5 separate regions of the Homo sapiens genome follow, and regions 1, 2, 4 and 5 are each linked to region 3. The links come from fine-mapping of genetic effects on gene expression. A gene starts in region 3. Each other region holds a variant in brackets. All regions are shown on one strand. Distances are between the middles of the regions.

Region 1 (5,108 bases), 130 kb before region 3:
GACTATACAAGATGTATTGCCATTATTTCTACCAGAAACGAAATTAAAGATGTAATAATTGTTTAATTGGAAGCTTATTTTTAAAAATCGAAAAATAATTTCATTGCAGCAAACATCATTTTTATCAATGCAAATATACTTACTTTTATCTCATTGTGAAGAAATAGATTTAGCACTAGCTTTATATCTCAGTGATTACAAAAGACCTGTCATAAAAGGATTGCTCTCTCTTGTCATTTAGAGCCCATCATCTGTAAGACTTCCTCCTGCTGCAGCTGAGCACAGCCCCCAGACAGCAGCGGGGATGCCTTCTGTGGCCTCACCACATCCTGACCCTCAAGAACAGAAGCAGCAAATAACTCTACAGCCGACTCCAGGCTTGCCTTCTCCCCACACTCATTTGTTTAGCCACCTTCCTTTGCATTCCCAGCAGCAATCGAGGACACCTTATAATATGGTTCCAGTTGGGGGGATCCATGTGGTACCTGCTGGCCTCACATACTCCACGTTTGTGCCCCTTCAGGCTGGACCAGTGCAGCTCACGATCCCTGCTGTCAGTGTCGTTCACAGAACTTTGGGTACTCATAGGAATACGGTCACAGAAGTGTCTGGCACTACAAACCCTGCTGGAGTGGCTGAATTAAGCAGTGTTGTGCCATGTATTCCTATCGGCCAAATCCGCGTGCCAGGCCTTCAGAACCTAAGTACCCCAGGCTTGCAGTCACTCCCCTCGTTAAGCATGGAAACCGTCAATATTGTAGGCCTAGCCAATACAAATATGGCCCCACAAGTCCATCCACCAGGACTGGCTCTGAATGCTGTCGGACTGCAGGTTCTGACTGCAAACCCTTCATCACAAAGCAGCCCCGCCCCTCAGGCACACATTCCAGGTCTCCAGATCTTGAACATAGCATTGCCCACCTTAATCCCCTCAGTCAGTCAAGTAGCCGTTGATGCACAGGGAGCTCCAGAAATGCCAGCTTCCCAAAGCAAAGCATGCGAGACACAACCCAAGCAGACTTCTGTAGCCAGCGCAAACCAGGTCAGCAGGACCGAGTCTCCTCAGGGGTTACCTACAGTCCAGCGGGAAAATGCAAAAAAAGTTCTGAATCCACCTGCCCCTGCAGGTGACCATGCAAGGCTTGATGGCCTGAGTAAAATGGACACAGAGAAGGCTGCCTCGGCAAATCACGTGAAGCCCAAGCCTGAACTCACTTCCATACAGGGCCAACCAGCGTCCACGTCACAACCTCTGCTGAAGGCACATTCTGAAGTTTTTACAAAGCCCTCAGGCCAGCAGACTCTCTCTCCAGACAGACAGGTTCCCAGGCCCACAGCACTACCGCGGAGGCAGCCCACTGTGCACTTCAGCGACGTGAGCAGCGATGATGACGAGGACAGGCTTGTGATAGCAACCTGATGGATTTTATTTTTTATTTGCTTTTTTTTTATATAACACTTAAAGGTTTCTTTGAAAACCCTCCTTTCCTTAAAGCACATTTTTCTGACATAAACTCATGACTAATCTTTGTGCAATCATGAACTTTTGACCAATAATTGTTGTTTTGTGTCAGCTCCAGCCATTTTTGTACATGTTGTATAGACAATTGTGCCTTTTAGGAGCTTTATGTTTAGAAACTGTACAGATTGTTGAATATCTATATACATAAAAATATATTATATATGTATATGAAAACCAGGTAGTTATTTGTGTTTAGTAAGGAAAACCTGTCAAATAAATCAAATGATTAAATTATATGTTCCACTGTTGAATATAAATTTTATGGCTATGGGGCAGAGTTTCTGTGTATAAATTAGTATGTAAACTCCATATTTATTGTATTCATATTAGTCTTTGAAAATGGGTCTGTCCTCCTTGTGTAAGACAGTAACTTTACACTTCAGACAGATTTTCTGTGTTATGAAATGTTTCAGTAAAATATTGTTTACTGACTTTACCATTGCTTCAGTTGTGCCTTCTTTATATCATCCAGTGATCAGTGATCTGCATTTGGAAAATAGCCCTGGGTTCCATTCTTTCCACATTCCCCTCAACCCTTCATTTTTTTTATAAACAGAGACTTTACT[C/T]GCCTTTCTACCATGTGAAACTGTAACTGAAATCCATACAACTGATTGACCTATTTTTCTTATTTGTGAGAAGTCATTTCATAGTTATTATTAGAAGACTAAATATATAAGAATACTTTCTGTATATACATAAAGCATATAGCCTAAAATGGGCAACGTTCCTAAATGAGGGTATGGAAATTTCTGGGAAACATGAGTTAAACCCCATTGTCCTTAGAATTTGGCTCAGATGAGACCCGTATAACCTCATTTCCAGGCTCCAACACCAGATCCATTCGTGGGCTATGGGCTCTTCTTTCCCTTGATGCTGTTAAACTCACAGAGCTCTGTCCAGCACTGAACTACAGAGTGTCCAAGATTACCGAAGAGCCAAATTCAGACTTCTAAATTACTTAAGTGACTCTCTTTAGACATTACTATTTCCTGTCCTGGAAGGTTGAACCATCCTTATTCAGGAAAATATGGCGGCATGGGGAGCCCCCAATTACCAGTGCAGTGATTTGCATTATTAATGATTATAGATGCTAGGTTTATGAGAAAAGTATTTTAATGTTGGAATTTAAATACTTAGCACATCATTAAGTCAATGTATTCACATTTTTAAAGGCTTGCTTAACAAAGATTGCAGAGACATGAAATAAGTAAGACAACAGCATGGTTTGCGAGGTGAGAGGTAGGGGACAGCCTATCTACTAAGGGGTTTGGAGACCTGCTGCTAGCCAACCCAGCTTCACGTCTGTGACTTTGCAAAGACCTGGCATTTCAACTTGCGTATCCTTATCTCAATTAGGATCTCCAAGGTGTGCTGCAGTCCCAGCACGCACTGGTGGATCTGTGATGCTTTAAATGAATGCTTCAATTTACATTTACATATTTCCATAGATTAAGTAACAAAATTCTCTCAAAAACAATAAAACTACATTTTTATATTCTGAGATAGCTTTGGAAAGAATTCTGGAAATATCTGCTCTAGGGATTGCGTTGCCCTATCAATAATAGCTGTTGAAAATGAGGTCTGTTTTCTGTCCAGTTTCTCAAAATTAATGTTTTAACTGTGTCATGAACTTTTTATTGCCTAAAATTTTAAAGCAGTATAATAAGCATATTCTTAACTCCATAATTAAGTACAGATGACTTCTCTAAATTCAAAAATAATGCTTGGAGTTTTTAGCATTGAGGTTTTTTAGTTTCTATAGAATTTTCTTAATTTAAAAAATTCCTATACTTAAAGACAAGTGTTACGATGTGAGTGGATGTTCCCTTGAAATTTTCATAATGCTGTAATGTACCTTACTCTTATTTTGTACTTTTCAAGATTCTTATTTTGGGCTTTTCAAAATTCAATGCATCGTGCAAATACCTTTACTATTGGCAACTTTCAAGCTTTATTGTAGCCTTTCAAGTATTTTGCTAGTATTTGAAATATGCAGCTCTATAAAAAATATTACCAAAGTCTAAGCCATTATATTTTGAAATTACATGCACAAAATAGACAAGGGAACAATAATTTTGTGCTATTTCTCCGAAGTCGTCTTTTCCCAAGGAGCAGTGTCCACTTGATACTCCCAAATATAAACGACTTCCAAATAATGTAATTCGGAGAACTAATGGGACTACATTTGACTTTTATTCTGTTGCACTGTCGTGTGTGGAGACCCAGGCCTGTAGAGAACTAGGGTGCAATGACATAGTAAGATAATTTATTGACAAAACAGGTGAAAGTTTTAATGTGTAACAATTTCAATACCTTGTGTGAATCCACTGCAATGCCATCATCAGAAGTACTGGAAAAAACAGCTGAAGAACCACAGGTCGTTTTTCTAGTTAAAGATTATTATATCTGGCTTATGAAAATGTATTATAACATAAATCGAGGGCGTTCCAATAACTTATTTTCATTCCCTAAACTTTAAGCCAAAATGATAATTATTTCTTTCGAAATGATAATTAACCGATGGTATTGAATGTACAAATTTTGTTTCTCAGTTATATTTTTCATAATATAGACCTGATTTTCCTTTCACAGAAACAGTATAAGTAACACGTTTCTTACTAATTAATCCCTGGCCTGAATTTTAAATGATAGCAGTTAATAAGGATTATGGAAAATAATCATTATTTTTGTTGGAAGACTGTCAAGATAGTTAATAGATCTTGATTCATGCTCAGTTCAAATTATAACATCAGGGTTCTTTTTGACTTTTCTGTTTTTCATCTTACATTTTGCAGTCAACTTCAAATAATACCAGAAAGATGATTTTCATTAATTTTGTTTCAAAACCATCTATAAATTCTAAATACAGCATGTATATCACCTTAAGAATCTTCTCTCAAAGTGACTTCCCATGACTTAAAATTCTAAATTTCCTACTTAATATTCAAAATATGTATTTTGTAATATATATTTGTATATATATAATATATGTATATATTACATGCATGTTATATATACGTTATATTACATGTATATATACATGTTATATTACATGTATATATACATGTTATATATACATATACATATATATGTTATATATACATATATACATATATGTGTATAATATATATACATATATACATATATGCATAATATATATACATATATACATGTGTATATGTGCGTGTATAATATATACATGTACATGTGTAGATGTGCGTATATAATATATACACATGTACATGTATAGATGTGCGTATATAATATGTACACATGTACATGTATAGATGTGCGTATATAATATATACACATGTACATGTATAGATGTGCGTATATAATATATACACATGTACATGTATATCTGCGTATATTATATATACATGTACATGTATATATGTATATATTATATATACATGTACATGTATATATGTATATATTATATATACATGTACATGTATATATGTATATATTATATATACATATACATATGTGTATATATACATATATATGTGTATATATACATATATACACATACACGTATATATGTATATTATATATACATATATACGTGTATATCTATATTATA
Region 2 (5,108 bases), 49 kb after region 3:
CCAGTACTAATTTACTGTTGAATGTTTATTTCCTCTTGTGTAGTTCTATTTTATATATTTTCTCCTCTCAATTGATGAATTACGTAAGCAAGCACTGATGAGGCCCTTTTCATTCCAGACACTCAAATGACAACTCTGGCTACCCATGCTGGTTTCACTTAACTTCTTCACCTAGGTAGCTCCTGGTTTGAGTCAAACAACACTCAGAGATTTGTGGGCTATTCAAGCTCAAAGAAACACTAGAGAATTACAATATTAATAATAACTAACATTTATCAGATGCTTGCTATGGGCCAAGACTTTTGCTATGATTTTGTATTTTTGTTTGTTTGTTTTTTGTTTTTGTTTTTTTGAGACGGAGTTTCGCTCTTGTTGCCCAGGCTGGAGTGCAATGGCGCGATCTCAGCTCACTGCAACCTCCGCCTCCTGGGTTCTAGTGATTCTCCTGCCTCAGCCTCCCGAAGAGCTGGGATTACAGGCATGCGCCACCAAGCCTGGCTAATTTTTGGTATTTTTAGTAGAGACAGGGTATCTCCATGTTGGTCAGGCTGGTCTCGAACTCCTAACCTCAGGTGATCCGCCCACCTCGGCCTCCCAAAGTGCTGGGATTACAGGCGTGAGCCACCACACCTGGCTTGTATTTTATAATTTTATTTAAACCTCATAATATTCCTGATTATCTCTATTTAATGGAGGAGTGGGCTGGAAGTAAAGGAGTTAAAAACTCTCCCAAGCCCGTTCTTCCAACCCACTGTGGCAGAATCATTGCTTAACACTTCTTTTTTTTTTTTTTTTTTTTTTTTTTTTTTTTTTTTTTTTGAGAAGGAGTCTCGCTCTGTCGCCCAGGCTGGAGACAATGAGATATAGGCTCATTGCAAGCTCCGCCTCCTGGGTTCGCGCCATTCTCCTGCCTCAGCCTCCCGAGTAGCTGGGACTACAGGCGCCCGCCAGCACACCTGGCAAATTTTCTGTATTTTTAGTAGAGACGGGGTTTCACCGTGTTAGCCAGGACGGTCTCGATCTCTTGACCTCGTGATCCGTCCGCCTCGGCCTCCCAAAGTGCTGGGATTACGGGCATGAGCCACCGCGCCCGGCGCTTAACACTTCTTTACCCTCTCAATTTAACAGAAGCATGGGCAAGATGGATGACAGCCTAAGGTCACACAGAGAGTTACCACCACTTGCTTCTGGTGCTAATTGACTGACAAGGTCCAAAACCTCTGAGTTTAAAGCAATGAAAGTACATACATTCACGTGTCGCTTAAGGATAGACACACGTTCTGAGAAATTTGTCCAGCGGTGATTTCATTGTCATGCAATCAACACAGAATGTACCTGCTATTTACACTTACATTACTACGGTATATAGGCAATACTGTAGGCAATTAGAACACCGTGTTAAGGATTTGTGTATCTAGACAGAGAAAAGGTACGGTAAAAATACAGTATGAGGATCTCACAGGACTCTCGTGTATGCGGTCAGCATTGACTGAAATATCACGTGGCATCTGACCGTATTTACAATAACGGGAGGCAGTGGACACTATCTGACTCCTGAAATCAGATCACCTAGGTGACTCCTTCAAAACTGTGGATGTTTGGCTGGGCGTGGTGGCTCACGCCTGTAATCCCAGCACTTTGGGAGGCCGAGTTGGGTGGATCACGAGATCAGGAGATCGAGACCATCCTGGCTAACACGGTGAAACCCTATCTCTACTAAAAATACAAAAAAGAAAAAAAATTAGCCAGGCGAGGTGGCAGGCACCTGTAGTCCCAGCAGTTCAGGAGGCTGAGGCAGGAGAATGGCGTGAACCCAGGAGGCAGAGCTTGCAATGAGCCTAGATCTCACCACTGCACTCCAGCCTGGGCAACAGAGTGAGACTCCATCTCAAAAATACACACAAAAAACAAAAAACTGTGGATGTGTGGGAAACTGATCTGCAAAGCTGATGATGCAGACAGCATTCCAACATGCCTTCATGCACACAGCACTTACTCATGATAAAGTTAATAAATAGGGCTTCGTTCTCTTTCCTCTTGTGGTGTTCCCCCCTTTAGCCATGGTCTGCTGAGAACAATTTTGTCTTTGCTCCTACTTCCCATGCCTGGAAGGGAAATGTAGTCTTTTGTTGGTTCACACCCGGCTTTTGTGACATAAAATGGGGAAAAGTAAGTTGAGAATGCATGTTTAAAGTGTAAGAGGTTCCTGAACCGCAGCAGGTGGAAGATAGCTGGAGAAAAGAGGGCAGGGATTTTAAGAAGGGTTTCTGAGGCGTGTACATAGATCCTCCCTAGAAGTTTCTCAAGAGACACCATAATAATTGCAATGAGTTTTAAATATTTGTTCGTGGATAC[C/T]CAGTGTTTCTCTGAATAAGAGAGCAAGTCAGGAATAGGCCAAATGGAGCCCTGGTTTTTATATGAGTTGCACATTCATGTTACAAGAACTTACTGAACACCTATTTTGTCCTAAGGATGCAAAGATAAATAAGGAAAGAGCTCTACCATTAAGAATCTTACACACAGGTGTCTGCCTTCCTACCCGGAATGATTGCTAGACCTTTGCCCATCTCGGCTGTGTGCCCAATAGATCTGCACCCAATAGGAAATAAAATATATCGAAACAAATTCAAGGTTCTTGGTTTGGGAGGGGTAGACTGAAACCCATAATGTTGGGAGTGAACTGAAAGACACCTTAATTTGACCCCTACATTTTACAAATAAGGAAACCAAAGCCCAGAGATTAAAGTGGCTTAGCCAGGCTCTTGGGGCAGCAGAATCCCAACAGAATCAAGAGAGGGGCCCCAGTGCTCTTGAGACTTCATCTGCCTCCTCTCCCACGGGCTCCTCAGGCATTACTGGGGCAAATCTGGGGACCCTGCATGGAAGCCCATCTCGCTAATTCATATTGGGAGTGGCAGACATTGTCAGGGGCTGTGAGAGCAGCCAGGTAGAGGCTAGAGGCTGATGGCCCCCTGCCGTGGTAAATGCCTATGATTCAAGTCATAGCCCTCACCTGGGGCAGAGGGCAGGTCCTCTTGCCTGCTCCGAAGTCTTGTCTTCCCTTGGATTCTGACGCTGGTGTCCCTCTAAGCTGGCCAGTGGGCTCTGGTCATCCAGTGCTATCTTTTGTGGAGGGGACAGGGACAGAGTGCTAAAAAGACTCCATGCTTTTCTGAACACTACTGACTTTCCGCCTCACTCTGCAGCCTCCTCAATGGGAGCCTCACACACTGGCTGGACACTGACACTCGGGAAGATCAAAGGTTCATCAGGACACCAGTTCATTCTGATTATTTCTCAACTGTTTGGGTTTGTCTGGGTGGGGAAAGAAAGGACAGTTCTGCTTGAGGTGCCACCAAAACACTGCCTGAGTGGCAGTGGAGCCGGGGAGGCTGGGCGGCTGGATGTGGTCCCACCGGGACCGTTCGCCAGTGGTGTCGCTCTGATGCCTGATTTATTTGTGTATTTGGCAGATGGGAAGGAGGAGTTCCACTGGGTGATAAATTGCCTGCACTGACCTATCCCTGTCAGTGGTAAGCCTGCCTGCCACCCACCCCCACACACCGCACCAAAGCAGTTCAGTCTCTTAGAGTACATTGTCAAGAGGAGAAGAGTTGGGATGGGGGCAGATTATAATGTCACCAGTGAATCCTCAGGGCTGTGGGTCTGTGGAGCTGAATGCTGGAGGGCATAAACAGTGCTTTCCTTTCTTGCTTTCCATCAGACGCAGAGTCCCTTCCCTATGTGGCCTCCAGAACTGTTGAGCAGGACGGGGTGAGGGAGGCAGTAGAGGCCTGGGTCTGGCCCTGGGTTCTGGTCACCTCTACGAACAACTCAGGGGCAAATAGTTTTCTGGGCCATTGTGGATGACTGTGATCCCAGCCTTTCCTATTGCCCTCCCAGAAATGCAAGCCACAACATGAATTCCCTGCGTGGCCTTGAACAAGCCACTATACTTCTCTGGCACTCTGTTTCCCCATCGATCAATGATTATCTCTGTCCAGTCATAACAGACCATTTTGGTCTCCACACCAACAGCGTCGTTGGTGTCACCTCCTGCCCCTACTCCACGTTGGAATTCCTGGGGACTTTTATTGAAAATATGTATTCCTGGATGCCATGCCAAGAAATTCTGACTTAATGGTGCTGCGGTGGGCTCACTTATCCGAATTTCTAACAGCACCCCAGATGACATTTTAATGCATTTAATGCATTTCTTTTCTCTAAATCCATGTCAAGTTAAAACACTTAGTACTGGATCAAGTAATTTATTGTGTTGATTTCTAATGATTTCACTCACATAAAGCCAGTCTGCTTTGACTAGTGCACAAATGGCATCGCAGCCAACACTTCATTTTTTTACTTTTACAAAATTATCCTACAGTGGAGATAGGGAGGGGACACGAGGGAACTTTCTGGGATGGCAGATATATTAGGGGTGTAAGTTTACACTGGTGTATGCATTTGTCAAAATGCGTTGAATTATAACACTAAGATCCGTGCATTTCATAGTATCTAAATTATACCTTAATTAAATGAATGAAATTTAAGAAGAAAAATGGCAAAAACACCAACTCAAAATTCCCCTACAGATAACACAAACGCATTCAGCATGAAGAAGAAGTGCTTCATTTGAGGGACGCTGTCAGCGGCATTAGAAAAGGCTCTGTCACTAACAACTTGTTTCTAAACTAAAGTCTTTCCCACCCTTCCCGCCAACGGGGCAGGCAAAGCCAATTGTAGCTTTAGCAAGTAGAGCGAGACAGGCAGAGATGCTGGAAAGACTTGGAGAAGCTGGCCTGGAGAAGCTGTATCTGCCCTGTTTTAGTGCAGCGGGCACTAAAAAAGCCTGAGGCTTAAACATGTGGTCTGTAAACAAGCAGCCCATAGCACCTCTCTCCCCTCCGCCCCTCCCTCCACTGTCACCGGGATGAAGCTGTGAAGACTGCTTGTCTTCACAGACATTTCCCTAAGTCTGCTTTCATAAATTAAAATGTTCATTCATTCATTCATTCATTCATTCCACATTAAGCGTCTCTGCAGCAGGCACTGGAATGGCTGAGATGAACGACCTGCCATTTCTGTCCCCAGACCCTCACAGTCAAATG
Region 3 (5,108 bases):
GGTGGGAGAAGGGACTCCAGCTGAAGTAGAACCCAGGCTGGACCTGAGAATATTGGGGAGGGCATGGGCGGTGGTTTCCGGGTAGGGGCCTTGAGAACATGTTGGTCCTGACTGTTGTCAGTGTTTGGTCAAAGTTGCCAAAAGGTTAAAAAAAAAAAAGTAGGGGGAGTCCCTGCCAAGACATATTTCCCAGGCCACCTTTCTTCCGCGGGAGTGTTGGGGGGGAGGCGCTGCTTGGAACCTGTGAATGTGACATCAGCTCTCCTCTCCTCTCCCAAGGTCGGCTTTGGAGAGGGAGGTCAGGGCACCCTTGCCTGGCACAGGCGGCAGCGCTGGCTTCCGGCTCAGTGCCGCCTGTCCTCCGGGAGCTGTGGCCTCCCTGGGCCCCGGGGCTAGGCTGAGGTAAGCGCACAGCGGAGGCCAGGGGCCCCGGCAGAGGCCCTGGGGATAGGGTGGAGGCATCTCTGGGTGTGGGTGTGGGTGTGGGTGTGGGAGGGAGAGTTCTTGCCTCTCTCTCTCCCATCTCCAACTCTTGCTTCAGTGGCTCTTTTAGAGGATGCATGTCATTATGGACCTGTCGCTGCCACTGTCCCTGTTCCCCCAGCTGTGACTTCGAGGGAGGTCTGGGGATCTGAGTCTGTCCAAACCCACGGCTTTGCTGTTGGGATAAAAACTGTCCTTTTGATTTTAGAAGGAGGAGGGAAAAAAGGTTTCCCAGCATGTGTGTTGTGCCAGTCTTGGAAATTCATCCGTGCTTGAATTCCACCCTCCATCCCCAGAAAAACTGGAGTAAAACAAAAAGAGGAGATGGACAAAGTGTGTATTTGATGGCATCCCCTGGGAAGAGACTCTAAATTTATCCCATAGGTCTTACTGGGCCACTGTGAGCGCTTTGGTGGAGAACAAACAAAAATTCTGGGTGCTCAGTTGTCTAACCTGAAAAATGGGACTAGCGGAAAAAGCCAATGTGTTCCATGCACCTTTTGCTTTCTTTATTAAGGCATGATGTCACCTGTACAGTAACTGCCCTGTGTGTACTTCAGGGGGGGATTTCAAGGTTAGATAGACAGGAAATTGTTTTGAAAATGTAAACACATTATTAAATGTGAAGTATTATCTGATTCCTTGTTCGAATGGCATTTCCTTCTCAGCACCACCTTCCTTGCATATTCACTTAACCTTGTACAAGAACACCTTTTTGCCCTAAATGAAGACACCCCCCCAAAAAAAAGAGTCCCAGAAAATATGTCCCTGCTTGTGCGGGGAATAAATAGAATATTCTGAGGTGCATTCCTCCTTCCTATGTTAGGCAACATTCCTTGACCCTCCTCGGCCCCCAAGCCAGGTTGCGTTTTTTTCTGCCATTTAGAAGGGTTTTCCTTTTTGTCCTAGTAAAACATCAGCCCCTGTAGCTCTTCATCTCCCCCTGGTGTTCTTCTCCCGCCATGTCTTAAGATTGGTGGCACCGACCAATCTTAAGATTTAAGTTCTGTGTGAAAAACACCTTTGCTTTTCAATCAGTTTATCAGCCTCCTCCGCAGGGGAAGTGTGGACACACAAAAGAACTTATCGGGGCTTCTCATCAGTGATAGGGAAAAGACTGGGCATGTGCCTAAACGAGCTCTGATGTTATTTTTAAGCTCCCTTTCTTGCCAATCCCTCACGGATCTTTCTCCGATAGATGCAAAGAACTTCAGCAAAAAAGACCCGCAGGAAGGGGCTTGAAGAGAAAAGTACGTTGATCTGCCAAAATAGTCTGACCCCCAGTAGTGGGGCAGTGACGAGGGAGAGCATTCCCTTGTTTGACTGAGACTAGAATCGGAGAGACATAAAAGGAAAATGAAGCGAGCAACAATTAAAAAAAATTCCCCGCACACAACAATACAATCTATTTAAACTGTGGCTCATACTTTTCATACCAATGGTATGACTTTTTTTCTGGAGTCCCCTCTTCTGATTCTTGAACTCCGGGGCTGGCAGCTTGCAAAGGGGAAGCGGACTCCAGCACTGCACGGGCAGGTTTAGCAAAGGTCTCTAATGGGTATTTTCTTTTTCTTAGCCCTGCCCCCGAATTGTCAGACGGCGGGCGTCTGCCTCTGAAGTTAGCAGTGATTTCCTTTCGGGCCTGGCCTTATCTCCGGCTGCACGTTGCCTGTTGGTGACTAATAACACAATAACATTGTCTGGGGCTGGAATAAAGTCGGAGCTGTTTACCCCCACTCTAATAGGGGTTCAATATAAAAAGCCGGCAGAGAGCTGTCCAAGTCAGACGCGCCTCTGCATCTGCGCCAGGCGAACGGGTCCTGCGCCTCCTGCAGTCCCAGCTCTCCACCGCCGCGTGCGCCTGCAGACGCTCCGCTCGCTGCCTTCTCTCCTGGCAGGCGCTGCCTTTTCTCCCCGTTAAAAGGGCACTTGGGCTGAAGGATCGCTTTGAGATCTGAGGAACCCGCAGCGCTTTGAGGGACCTGAAGCTGTTTTTCTTCGTTTTCCTTTGGGTTCAGTTTGAACGGGAGGTTTTTGATCCCTTTTTTTCAGAATGGATTATTTGCTCATGATTTTCTCTCTGCTGTTTGTGGCTTGCCAAGGAGCTCCAGAAACAGGTAGGCACGCTCGTTGACTTGTAAGTCTCGGAATTACAAGTTAGTGTGTTCTTATCCACCTTCATGCTTTTCTTGCTTCTATTTTTCCCCGTTCTTTTTATGACTGCAGCTTAGAGAGCAAGTGTCTGAGAATTATTGCTGAAAGCTACTTTAAGTCTTCTAGTGTAAAATGTAAAATTCCTCTATTGAATACAATTAGGTGCAATTGACTATAACATGACATTAAAATAACTTATCGTTTTATTATTATTATTCCATTATGTGTTTCCTTGGCTTTTAAAAAATGAGAAGAGTATGGACATATACAATTTAGTCAAATGTATGTTTGTAATATATGTGTTTATACAGGTACACAGGCCATATAGGAACTTAAATCTTATTTAAACACTATTTTAATAGTGTGTTAACGTGTAAAATATTTAAGCATTCCAGCTTGAAGCCAAGGAATTGTATCCAGTCGTTCAAGCAATGTATGTTCAGTAAAATCACCTGCAGAGCAAAAGTCTGTTGACTAACTACCGCCTCCCCCCCCCCCCGCCACCACCCCCCGCAGGCGGTTTCTGGGTGAAGCAGATGTTTTCTTTAAAATTTGTCATCATTGACTTTAGGTTTCTTTTGGCAGGTTTTTGGCACCCAAAACAGTGTGAGCTCTCTTTTCAGCTTTATTCACCTGTGCTGGGAGGGGAGCTAGGATAATTCTTGGCTGCCGAAGGATTTAGGCAGTGCGTGTGCATCTGCCCGGGTCCCCCCCGTTTTTAGGGTCAGTGCACTTTTTTTGTCTTTTCGTGACCCTGACTAAAGAGAAAGGATGTCAAGGGAATGAAAATCCTGGAATGTGTCTGATCATTTGAAATGTACAAAATTGGGCAGATAAGCTGCATGGCTAAATTGTTAGGAGGAAGAGGCAAGGCAGTAGTGGAGAAGGGGGAGGCAGTGGATCCCACACAAGCCTGATGCCCAGGGATTCGGAATTCAAAATCCCCCCAGCCTACCTTCAGTCCCCTGACCTGCTTCTCAGCCCCACCTTAGGTCACTGGTTTCTATGGAGTTACCCTCCTGAATTGAATATTGAATAGTTAATTTCTCTCTCCAATCATTTTCCCCACCTAATTTTGAAAGATATACATCATCTGGGGTACCCTGTGCCCTACACAGCATGTGAAGTGGATGGGTACCCCCTAAAGAGAGGGTCATCCTGAATGGGGAAGTGGCCCCAAAGCTAGGAATAACTGTGATTTCTTGTCTTTAGTCATGTGCCAATGTTAAGTAAGCTTCAGTGGATAGTGCTGTCCTACCAAGTTCCTTGTAGAAGCCAGCCGGATTTTCAACAGGCAGCATTCCACAGCATTTCCCTGAGCCTGCTTCAAGAGGGGTGGGGGAAGTCCCTTTTCAGGTGTTTATCTCCTCTGCATTTGTGTAATCTCCCTGAAGGTGGATAAGCCAAGGGCATGAGGGGGAGGCAAAAGGTGAACTCATGTTAAGGAGGGAAAAAAATAAAGAGCCCTTTTTTCTGTGTTTCTTGCTGATGGCAGGCTGTGTGCTTCATCTGCTTTTATCTGCTCTGCTAGCTCTGACTCTACTGTGATCCAGCATGTCTCTCGGCGTTTGAGGAGACATCCCCCACTGACCTGCTCTTTCTCTCCCCAGCAGTCTTAGGCGCTGAGCTCAGCGCGGTGGGTGAGAACGGCGGGGAGAAACCCACTCCCAGTCCACCCTGGCGGCTCCGCCGGTCCAAGCGCTGCTCCTGCTCGTCCCTGATGGATAAAGAGTGTGTCTACTTCTGCCACCTGGACATCATTTGGGTCAACACTCCCGAGTAAGTCTCTAGAGGGCATTGTAACCCTAGTCATTCATTAGCGCTGGCTCCACTGGAGCCCAGTTTTAGAGTTTCTTTTCTAGGGACTCTGAAGGTAGTCCTTCTAACACCATCCAAGTGCCTCAGTGGGGACAGTTTCCCTCTATTCCTGAAAATAACGACAGCTTCGTTCTTAGCAACCAAGGGGAGGGTCTTCTGAGGCCCCGTAGCTCAGGCTACTCATGATGGGACAAGCAGGAGGCCACTGCACGTTTCAAATGAGGAACTTTCAGTGAGAGGGCCTCAGGGGGACACTCTCACAGTGGCATCTGATGGGGTTTCGGGAATAATTGCCGAGGTCAGATGTGGGTTAGTGCAACCTGTGCTTCTCATGGGAGGGTGGAGACTGAGAGGCAGAAGTGATGATATAGAGGGTTAGAATCACTTAATTTTACTTACAGAAAAACCTAGGCTCAAAGTGTTGAAGCCATTTGTGCAGGAGTGAGTTTGTAGCAGAGCTAGAACTGGAGCCCGGATTTCCTTTGCTGCTATATTTTCCCTTTAGAAATGCCCATTTCAGAACTGAAATAGAAATACTGTCCATAGGCTTCTCTTTCACCTACAGAGAAGAAAAGCAGATTTCCTCCTTCTGCCCTGGACACTAGTTCATCATCTGTCGGAAGCAGTCATAAACAAGCACACATTTACTATGC
Region 4 (5,108 bases), 39 kb before region 3:
AATGATACATCCCTACTTAGGGGATCTAGGATGCTATGCATTGAGACAAGACAAAGTTTATGGTGTCAGAGCCAGAGAGAAAGCAAGGGTGATCTGAGCCCAGCAACACAGCTCCATTGTAAATAGCTGCTCACCTGGGGCAAACAAGTGCTATAGGATATGATAAGGAAGGTTCATTTCATCATTTTATGGCTGTGTACATCCTGGAGTGAAGGAAAGGCATTAACGAGTTTGGTAAGAGCTGGCAAAGCCAGAGTCCTTATTTGCAAGGCATGGTAAGCCTATGGGTGTGTTATCATTTACTTCATTGTGATTTACGACAGTCCTACTGCTGATTATACCTCTCTGACCCCCTCAGGGTTGGTTGGAAGTTGTTTAGATCCTACCTTTTTCTCTCCAGACACCAGAGACTGCCAGAACCACGCTCACCTGTGAGTGAAACAAGCAAATTCCCTGGCATCAAGGGGAAGTTAAAACTTCTATTTGAAACAACTTTTTGAACACTTTTGGCATATGTGGAAATGTACATATACACACACGCATATGTATGTGGATTATGTAAGGGGTTATAATAAAGTAAAATTAAGATTCAAGAGCATTTTTGACTTTAAGAAAAATATTCCTGACCCATGCACTCTTATGTAACCTGATCCCTCAGAAGCATACAAGATAAATCAAATTTACAGAGTTACAAAAAAGTGTTCACTGACTGCTGGAAAATATATGATGTCATATTTGTGGTTAATGGCCTAAGTTAGATTAAAAAGATGCACTTTTTTGTATTTTGATGATTTGTCCTTTGTTTTTTCTGTTTTAGTTAGACTTGACCATGGAATTGATACTCTGTCAATAAATTCTTTATCTTTCACTGTTGCCACTGGTAAGAATAGCTAAAGGTTTTGCAGGATAATTGCCTTGAAGAAGGTATCTTCAGAATCCATTTATTTCAATTATTTGCCAATATTATTCAAAATTTCTTGTCTTCTTATCACTATCAATGAGTAGAAATTTTCAGGATTGCTAAGAGTTTGTTATGCTTTGTGGGAGAAATTCTGTGTAAGATTGAGTTTTGAAAAAATTCCATGTTGCATAATCTGGGGAAATGCCTGTTCATGCCTATATCTGAGCAAACTTTGTAACTTGTTTATAAAGGAAAAAAGATTTGAAATTTAAAATTTGGCAATTAGGAGCACATTAACTCTCCTTGTCTACAATTTTTATCGCACCATAAAAATACACTTTTAAGAAAAAAAATAGCATTCCTTTTAAAGGTTTCTTTCAAAAGATATCCCTTTAGGAGATGGGAGTTAAATAACAAAATCAATTACTCTCTTTGTTGGGTAAGTCAAGGACTCCCTAAGCCCAAATTTTGAGTGCCTCTTGGCATCTTTGTATATAACAACTGGAGGTTATCCACACATTAATTGCCTCTAATACTATTCAAATGCATAATCAAATCCAACAAGTCATTTCTGCTTAACTGATGCAACACAGATGATGCCATGCTTCCTGAGACTGAAAGGTTTGCTAAGGAAATTGCCTCTAAAATTATGGCAAGTATAAAATAAAGGACTATTAGAGGAGATACCACCTTAGCTGCTGTACCTAGGGATACTGATAAAGGATATATCACAACACTCATTCATAACTGAAAGGATATTAAAATCCAAATAAAGCAAAAGACCAAAGATAACTTAAGCCATACCCCAAAAAGCTAATTAACTAATAAGTTATTTTACTGTTTAACAGAATGAAGAGATTAATGGTAGACAACTCTTTAGCTGGAATATTGGAAAGACTTACACAATGAAAGCAATAAGTGACATAGATCTTGCTAAAAATCAATAAAGCAAGTAAAGCCAGTTGGCACACTATTTAACGTGAATCAATGTGAATGATATCTCATCAAACTTGAGGTGTCATTCAAGAAGGAATACTTGCTATTTCTGTCTCCTAAATTTCCAAGAAGACATTACAAGTGTCTAAAATGAGCACACTCTTAGGTGACCCTGATAGAAGTGCATTTTATATTTACTTGTGAAACGTGCCCCAAAAGTTAAAGAAACCAATAACTCATATAAATTCTTGGGTTTGCAGGATGTCAGATTAAAAACAAGAAACAGCTTCCTGAAACACTAAAACTCCCTCCACTTGTAAGACAACAAAACTGGCTGAAATCTTTTCGAACCGATACGGCCAGCTGGAGTTTGCACAGAACAAGCTTGCTGATGTCACAGCCTGGATTTCCACTGCACGTTTTATATTAACTCCTCCCCAAATTTGCACATGGGACCTATAAGGAAGCACAAAGGGATGACTGTGCGTGCCTGAGGGTCTTTCAGACCTCTCCTTTCCTCCCACCAATTACCTGCTAATCTCAGAATCCACCCTCTTAAACCTTTTCTAGTAAAAGTATTGCCTTAAAACCAGCACAGAGAGATGGATCTGAGCTTGACTCATATCTCCTTGTAAGTCAACTTGCAATAAATAGCTTTTCTTTCTCAAAAACTTGGT[G/A]TTATATTATTGGATTCTAGAACATTGGGCAGCAAGTTCCTTTTGCTTGATAGCACTTTTGTATAAATGTGTATGTGTAAGGATGTAATTAACAGCATCCTTTTAGGTTTCTGCATTTATATTAGGCCAAATCGATATACCTTTTAGATATTGCTGGACTTGGATTCAATTTGCTTTGTTCTCCATTTCATTTACTAAAATCTGGGTCTAATGTAAGAGTTCTTGGTATATTACATAAACATAAATCATTGCTGCTGAAGTTCTAATAGGACTCTGTTGCTACTTGCAGAAACCAGCTTTGAGGTAGTCAAGGAAAGAGGATAAAGAAAAGAACAAAACTGAGGTTTTAATTTCATACATGATTTGTGTCTTTGACAGTGCTTTTGTTTCATACAAAACACAAACGAAATAAAAATTTAGGTTCCATTTCTGTCCCTTGCCATGTTAACTGTCCAATATAAAAAGAATTGAGCATTATGAAGTAGGGTTCTGCAGCTTGCTAGATAATAAAGATATTGAAAGAAGGGTTCAATTTGGGTTGGATGCCAATAGTGGTGAAGCATCCTGCATGTTCACGTTGGCTCTCCAGAACTTTCAGGACTTGATAATTCTGCAGGAACGCAAGGTGGGGGCCTGACTTCTCTTAAGCCACACCAATGCCAGTTAAATTTGGGATTGACAGAAAAGTAGAGAAAGAATAGTTAAGTTTGCATGAACTTCATTTATGTCTTTTTTTTCATGTGTGTATTCATGCAGTGTTCACTCCCTACTCACTATAAGCCACGTGCTCTGCAAGATACTAGGTATACAAAGATGAATAAATTTGTCCTTGAGGAACAAGTAATTATAAAGTTAGAAGATAAAGATAAAAATATCCAACCTGTATTGAAAAAGAAGAAAAAGAAGAAGAGGAAGAGGAGAGGTAGAGGAAATCACCTATGAAGAAACTGAAATCCAACTAACCTCAGAGGAGTTCTTTAAAACTCTACATGCCAAAGACAATGAAGCAACTAACAGAATTATAGGGGAAAAGTTTGTGACCAAACTATAATCTATGTTTATTCTTTGTGGCGAGGACCATAAAATATAACCCCACACACTCAAAGGAAAAAATGCTTGAACACATTCTATAGCCTGCCAAGATTTTCATAAAATGAAGAGCTTAAATTGAGTTAGAAACAGACTCCCAATGAGCAATGAAATTAGCAATTTGAAAGATGCATGCAACTGTCAAAAAAGGGAGAGAGAAGATACATAATGAAAAAATAATCACTTTTTCAGTAATATTTATCAGACCCCCTCCTATATGCTAGACAGCATTCTAGTCAATGAGATTACAACAGTAAATTAAACAGACAAAAATTAAGCAGAATGCAAAGTCTGCCTTTATAAAGCCTATATTCTACAGGAGAATCAGAAAATAAACAAGATACAAAAAATGCATAGTATGAAATCACATAATACCTCAAGTCTTAATAGCAAAAACTAGCATATGGATATAAAAGGATAGAAAAAGTGAGTGAAAAAGGGATAAATATTTTAGCTTATGTAGAAGAGGAAGAAAAGACTTTAATTTCCAGGAATTTACACACACATGTGCACACACAAAATGTAGGGTAGAAAAATTATTGCTTAGACAAAATAGAAGTCAAAGGGAACAGCATTAAATAGGACAAAAAGAATAACTCATACTACTACTACTAATAATAAAAGTCAACACATTCAAAGTCCATCTTCTTATTCTTCATCTGACTCAGTTTCTGCTCTTGCCTCTCTAAGTGAGGGTATTGTCCTACTGCCCCCAAAGCCAGGCCAAAAACCTGGGCATCATTCTTTACTCCTCTGTCCCTGCGCACACCCAATCTACCGCCCGTGACGTTTTGTTTTTCTACCTCCTAAATACATCTCAATCCATCTCCTTCCCTTTGTGCTTTCTGACATTTTGCTCATTTAGAACACCATCATCTCTTACCTGGCCTTCTACCTCAACCCTCTAACTGGTTCCCTTGCCTCCTGCTTGTTTTCATCAAATCTACTATCCATGGGGAGCTCCAAACTATCTTTCAGTCTACCCATCTGATTATAACATTATTCTGTGTAAAACACCTTTGGCATCCCATTGTCCAGAACTCCTTAATGTCACCCTCTGTAGTTTAACTGTTGATTATCTCTCCAGGCTGGTATCTCATTTGTTGCTTTTTATATCCAGCCACGTGAGCATTTGCAATTCCCAAATACTGGGTCAGCCGCTTTCTCACCTTGAGGGTGTTTCCCTCTGCCTGGTACCCGCTCTTCTTCCGTCTCCCTTTGCCTGGCCAATTCCTATTGAGTTTAGACACCACTTCTCCTTGTAAACCTTTCCTCACTCTCCACTCTGCCAAATCTGGTCGAGTTCCTATTCTGAGTGTTCCAATAGAACCTTGAACTTCCCCTATCATAGTACCTTTCCACTTGATTATAACAGCCTGTTGATATGTCTGGAGTCCACACCAGATTGTAAACCCCATAAAGCTGTGGACCATATCCCCAGGACAAAGATCTATCCAGAAGGGGTTTTAATATTAAATGAGAAATATTATTTAAAAAGAAGTAAG
Region 5 (5,108 bases), 49 kb before region 3:
AAAACCACCATTGTAGCCACAAAATCAAAATCAAAGAGGAAAGTGAAAGAATAGGACCCAGGCAGGCTGTGCAACCAAGCATTTCCTTTAGCTCCTCTTGACCAAAGGCATCCCAATTTCCCAGTGAAGATGAATTAGAAATTACATGAGAACCATACGGTAGATTATTTCTGGATTGGTGTATAAATATATACAGCACTGACGCCAATTGTTTGAAAAACTGCATGTGTTATATCAGTTGGGTGAGTTTAGCTCTTCTCAATGGATCTTTTAGTTATTGGAATAAAATTCCAACTTATAGCAACTTCTTCAGTATAAATTAGGCAGACTTTCAGCAAGTCCTGTGAATACCCAGTTCCTGGCACACAGTGGGCCTCATTACAAGTTGACTGAAGAACCTCAGTTCTGGGTTCTGTGACAATTCTGGGCCCAGAGTTGTCACAGGGCAAATGAGATAAGCAGCATTGCTTGGAGAATGTTGCCTCAATCATTCGTGTTCCTTTCTGGCTGTGATGTATATTACACTCTCCATAGTAATTGTCTGTCTCCATAAACCCATTTAAAAATACACATGTTAACATAATAGGATTGCTAATTATACTTGGATGTTCTTGTTCCTTTTTCTGACTCTATAATAAAGCCTCAAAATGCTAGCTAGGTCATGGCCACCTAAAAGAAATTACATTTTCTTGACCGCCTTCCAGCAGATACGGCCAAGTGACTACACTTTGGTCAATGGATATAAACAAAAGAAATGTGTAAGGCTCCAGGATCTATCTTTTAGGGGTAGGGGTAGGCCCTTCTCCTGCCTCTTTTCTCATCCCTACCTGCAATAACTTAAATATGATGGCTTAAGCTAGAAGAACCATTTTGGACCATAAAGTAAAAATCCTCTGTTGAAAATAGAGGGAACAGGCCTGGTGCAGTGACTCGCACCTCTAATCCCAGCACTTTGGGAGGCTGAGGCAGGAGAATTGCTTGAGCCCAGGAGTTTGAGATCAGCTTGGGCAACATAGGGAGACCTGGTCTCTACAAAAAATACAAAAATTAGCTGGGCATGGTGGTGTGTGCCTGTGGTCCCAGCTATTCAGGAGGCTAAGGCAGGAGAATCACTTGAGCCCAGAAGGCAGAGGTTGTAGTGATCTGAGATTGCAACATGGCACTTCAGCCTGGGTGTCTCAAAAACAGAAAACAAAAAACAAAAACAGAAAAGGAAAAAGAAAGAAAATAGAATAGCATGATAAAAGGAGTGTAGGTTGAGTGAGAGAGAGGATTTGGTGGAACAGAGGTTATAAAGTAAAATAAAAGCAAAGGTATTATGGATAAAATCCATGTTCAGACATCATCATTCTGATTGCTTATAGGCAGAATTGGTAGAATTCAGGTAGGCCAGATGCCATGAAATTTTGTATTGACAAAGAGACCAGCAGTCTAGACTGCAAAAGCCTTTGACCATTCAATACCTAAGGTGACCACCTTTCCCAGACAGCCAGCAGGAAGGCTGTGAAAGCTGTGAAGGCTTTAAGAAAGGCGCGCACTTGGGAGTATTATGAGCTGGGAAACATTTCCTAAAGGGAGAGAAAACCCACAGGCGGCAGTGAATGAAGAAGTTTTGCCCAGTGAGCAGGTGAGAGTCCAGCTGACTCTCATGATTTTGTTTTCTCTTTCTGCCCAGTGGGATCTGATAATATTTAGAGATAAGGAACTATTATGTGATTCTCAGTTTTTAATTTTTCTGAGTGGGAGAAATGTTTGTTTATATAAAGTTTGTCCTGTTCTTATTGGACTTGTAGGTGTGTTGTATTAGGTAACTTACATTTCTATTTTGTAGGGCCCCTGAAAATGAGTAGTTACACTCAGACCTGATAAAGAGCATGGAATAGTACCTGAAAATCCTGGACTTAGAACCAGATGCATGAATTTGGTGGAACTCTGGGATTCTTTATCTGGGAGTACAGGGGTTGAGTACATTTCAAACATGGAAATAAGGGTACACTGAGATACATGGGTGGCCAAAGGGGAGACATAGCTGTCTTTCAATATCTATTATCCCTTAGGTTCTGTGAACCTGAAAGAACCAAGGACTATAAAGAGCAGTGGTGTACAACTCCCAGGAATTGTCTTTAATGGGAGATCATGTGGCTTTATCTTGTCTCTTTTTTGCATCCTGCTGCCTGGAACACAGATGTGATGGCTGGTGTTGATCCTGCTGTGTGCTGAGGGAGATGGAACATCAAGGTAGAAAGCACTGGACCTTCTAAGCATGGTGGAGCCATTATGCCAGC[C/G]CTGGATCATTTACATTCAGATGAGTGTGCAAATTTTTATTCCCTTAAAGCCACTTAGATTTTGAATTTTCAGTCACTCTCAGCTGAACCCAATCCTTACTGCTCTTGGAAGACATTTACACTGTGGGAACCTTAGGATGCACTTTTTTTTCTTTTCTTTCTTTCTTTCTTTTTTTTTTTTTTATTGAGATGGAGTCTCACTCTGTCACTCAGGCTGGAGTACAGTGGTGTGATCTTGGCTCACCGCAACCTCTGCCTCCTGGGTTCAAGCGATTCTCCTGCCTCAGCCTCCTGAGTAGCTGTTATTACAGGTGTGCACCCCACACCCGGCTAATTTTTGTATTTTTAGTAGAGACCGGGTTTTGGTTTCTCCATGTTGGCCAGGCTGGTCTTGAACTCCTGACCTCAGGTGATCTGCCCGCCTCAGCCTCCCAAAGTGCTGGGAAGGACACACTTTTATAAGCAGGCATCTTTGGAGATCTTGGTGGGAGAGATGGCTCAAGGAGAGGAAAAGAGGGAGGTATTAGTACAACTGGGTTTTTATAGGCCCAGCACTAGCTTCATAAAAGTTATTTGCAAAAAAAGTACGGGTCTGTGTTTTTGTCTGATGAGGTGGCCCATTGCTCTATGGTAAGTGGAATACATAATTGCTCACCTTTGCTTTTGGAAATTAAATGTATTTAGAATTGAAACCAGCTTATGGTTTTCTTCTCTTACTCATGTTCATAGAAGATGATCCTATGAGTAACACTTTTTTTGGAGACTCAATCATTGTTTCCAGTCTCTTGCATTCTCTAGTAGGTGGTTTATCTTCAGTAACTTTTGCAAATTGCATCAACATACTTGCCTCCTACAAATTTAAACTCAATAAACCAAGGAGAACAAGGGTGTGATGGTGGGAATTTCTTTTGAAAGAGTCAAGCCCATGCTGTGCAGGCTGCACCCATCTTTACTGCATTCCCATAAAAGGCTTGGGGGAAGGAAGTTAAACCATAACCCCGTTAGGTAATAGGCTATGCATTAATGCAATTTATCTGGAATGAGGAAGGAAGAGATTCAGCTTTGAAAGAATTTCCTCAACAGCATATTCCTCTTTGCTGCAAAGCTGTTTCACTTCAGGTGAGACCCAGGAAGCAGCCTGGGAATTCCTTGACCATCGATACCAAAGGCTTTCTGGAGGTGTGCAGTCTCTAGGGATTTGAGGGTGTCGCCCAACAGTCAGTGTGATTTTACAACCAGTTCTCTCTAGGCTAATTTCTAACGCAGGGAATGAGAATGGTCATGCTGAAAAGTGGTAGAGAGATTTGACTCGCCTGATTGCAAGGACCAGGTCTACCACCCAGTAATTGTGTGGACTAGAAGGTGGTGGAGTGAGTAGTGACCTCTGAAGAGTGTGACCTCTCAAGCCAACTGCTTGAGCTCCAATTCTGCCTCTGCTACTTTGTGACTGTGTAGCCCTGGGAAAGTTATTTTACCTCTCTGTGCCTCAGTCATTTCCTCTATAAAATAGGTCTCTATATGGACCTACCTTATAAGGTTGCTGTGAGTGGCACATGCAAATGTGTTTATAAAGTATATCCCATGGTATGTGGCGTAATTTATTTTTTGAGGGGAGATAGTGAGGTGCTAGTTACACACTGGGATGAGGTAGATCCTTGTTTGGATCTCAGCCTTGCTGCTCCCTGGGTAGGTGGCTTTGGATCGCTGCTCACCTTGCCAGGTCCCTCTGGCTCCTCCTTGGCTGAACATGCTTTGACTACACTGACCTTTCTGTTTCTCCAGCCCTCCTCATGGCCTGTATATAATATTTCTTCCAGTTGGAATGCTCTCTATTAACCATTATGATTCTCATGAAGGCTGTTTCTGTTCTCCAGGCTGGGTTCAGGTCTCTGTGATATCACTCAAGGAGTTTTGTACCTACCCTCCTGAGCACTTAGAATTATGCTAGAGTATTCATTTGTATAATTACAGTTGACTCTTAGGCAGCTCCAGGGATGGGGGCACCAACTCTCCTTGCAGTCAAAAATCCACAGATAACTTTTGATTCCCCAAAAACTTAACTAGTAATAACCCGCTGTTGACCAGAAACCTTAGTGATAACATAAACAGCCAATTAACACCCATTTTGTATGTTATATGTATTATATACTGTATTCTTATGATAAAGTAAGTTAAGAAAAGAAAATGTTATTTAAAAAATCATAAAGAAGAGAAAATATATTTGCTATTCAGTAAGTGGAAGTGGATCATCTTAAAGGGCTTCATCCGTGATGTCCTCACATTGAGTAAAGAGGAGGAGGAGGAGGAGAGGAGGAGGAGGAGGAGGAGAGGAGGAGGAGGAGGGGCTGGTCTTGATGTCTCAGGGGCGGCAGAGGTGGAAGAGGTGGAGGAGGTGGGAGGGAGGCAGGAGAGGCAGGCACACTGGGGGTAACTATTATTAATGAAAATCCTTGTGCAAGTGGATCTGCACAGTTCAACCCATGTTATTCAAGGGTCAACTGTATTCCTATCTGTACTCAGGACTGTGAGTTCCAAGCATGGTTAACAAGTCCTGTGTCTTTCAACCCAATGTCTATACTGGTGCCTGGCTCAGAGGGGACAAAACAAATACATGAATGCTGAATTAATACATACATACATAAAATGAATGTGAGAAGAATTTCCTTTTCTGATGGTTTTATAAACTATGAGCTACTTGAAGGCAGATTACATTTCATCTATAGTTATATCCCCAAAAGCCTATAGTTAGCAAGAAATTAATGTATTTGTCATGTGGATGAGTAAACTGTACCATAGTGATTCGAATTTAATTCACTAACATAT

Direction of the effects. Positions count from the first base shown, and alleles are read on the strand shown. Sizes are in standard deviations (SD) of each study's normalised expression. Not every link is listed here.
In carriers of allele T in region 2, the expression in lymphoblastoid cells of the gene that starts at base 2,268 in region 3 tends to be lower than with C alone (moderate effect, 0.68 SD a copy in TwinsUK).

What was found.
Region 1: its variant is fine-mapped to the expression of EDN1 in whole blood (TOPMed, PIP 0.99).
Region 2: its variant is fine-mapped to the expression of EDN1 in lymphoblastoid cells (TwinsUK, PIP 0.95).
Region 4: its variant is fine-mapped to the expression of EDN1 in whole blood (INTERVAL, PIP above 0.99).
Region 5: its variant is fine-mapped to the expression of EDN1 in whole blood (TOPMed, PIP 0.92).

The regions. Positions count from the first base shown.
Region 1 is chr6:12,163,042-12,168,149 of GRCh38, forward strand. HIVEP1 (HIVEP zinc finger 1) reads left to right here. Exons shown (of 9, transcript NM_002114.4): 9 at 242-1,958. The coding sequence ends at 1,420. Among named protein-coding and RNA genes, the nearest start is that of EDN1, 120 kb to the right of the region's middle. RefSeq lists enhancers at 256-315, 376-425, 1,145-1,645. The variant C/T (reference allele first, on the strand shown) is at 2,089.
Region 2 is chr6:12,336,653-12,341,760 of GRCh38, forward strand. No RefSeq gene overlaps it. Among named protein-coding and RNA genes, the nearest start is that of EDN1, 49 kb to the left of the region's middle. The variant C/T (reference allele first, on the strand shown) is at 2,356.
Region 3 is chr6:12,288,094-12,293,201 of GRCh38, forward strand. EDN1 (endothelin 1) reads left to right here and starts at 2,268. Exons shown (of 5, transcript NM_001955.5): 1 at 2,268-2,600; 2 at 4,248-4,416. The coding sequence starts at 2,537. RefSeq lists enhancers at 1-376, 377-877, 2,021-2,120, 2,131-2,200.
Region 4 is chr6:12,249,490-12,254,597 of GRCh38, forward strand. All of the region lies in intron 2 of LOC124901260 (a long non-coding RNA gene), which reads right to left. It also overlaps a transcript of EDN1 not described here. Among named protein-coding and RNA genes, the nearest start is that of EDN1, 38 kb to the right of the region's middle. The variant G/A (reference allele first, on the strand shown) is at 2,515.
Region 5 is chr6:12,238,713-12,243,820 of GRCh38, forward strand. It overlaps LOC124901260 (a long non-coding RNA gene), which reads right to left. Exons shown (of 3, transcript XR_007059454.1): 3 at 2,735-2,782. It also overlaps a transcript of EDN1 not described here. Among named protein-coding and RNA genes, the nearest start is that of EDN1, 49 kb to the right of the region's middle. The variant C/G (reference allele first, on the strand shown) is at 2,286.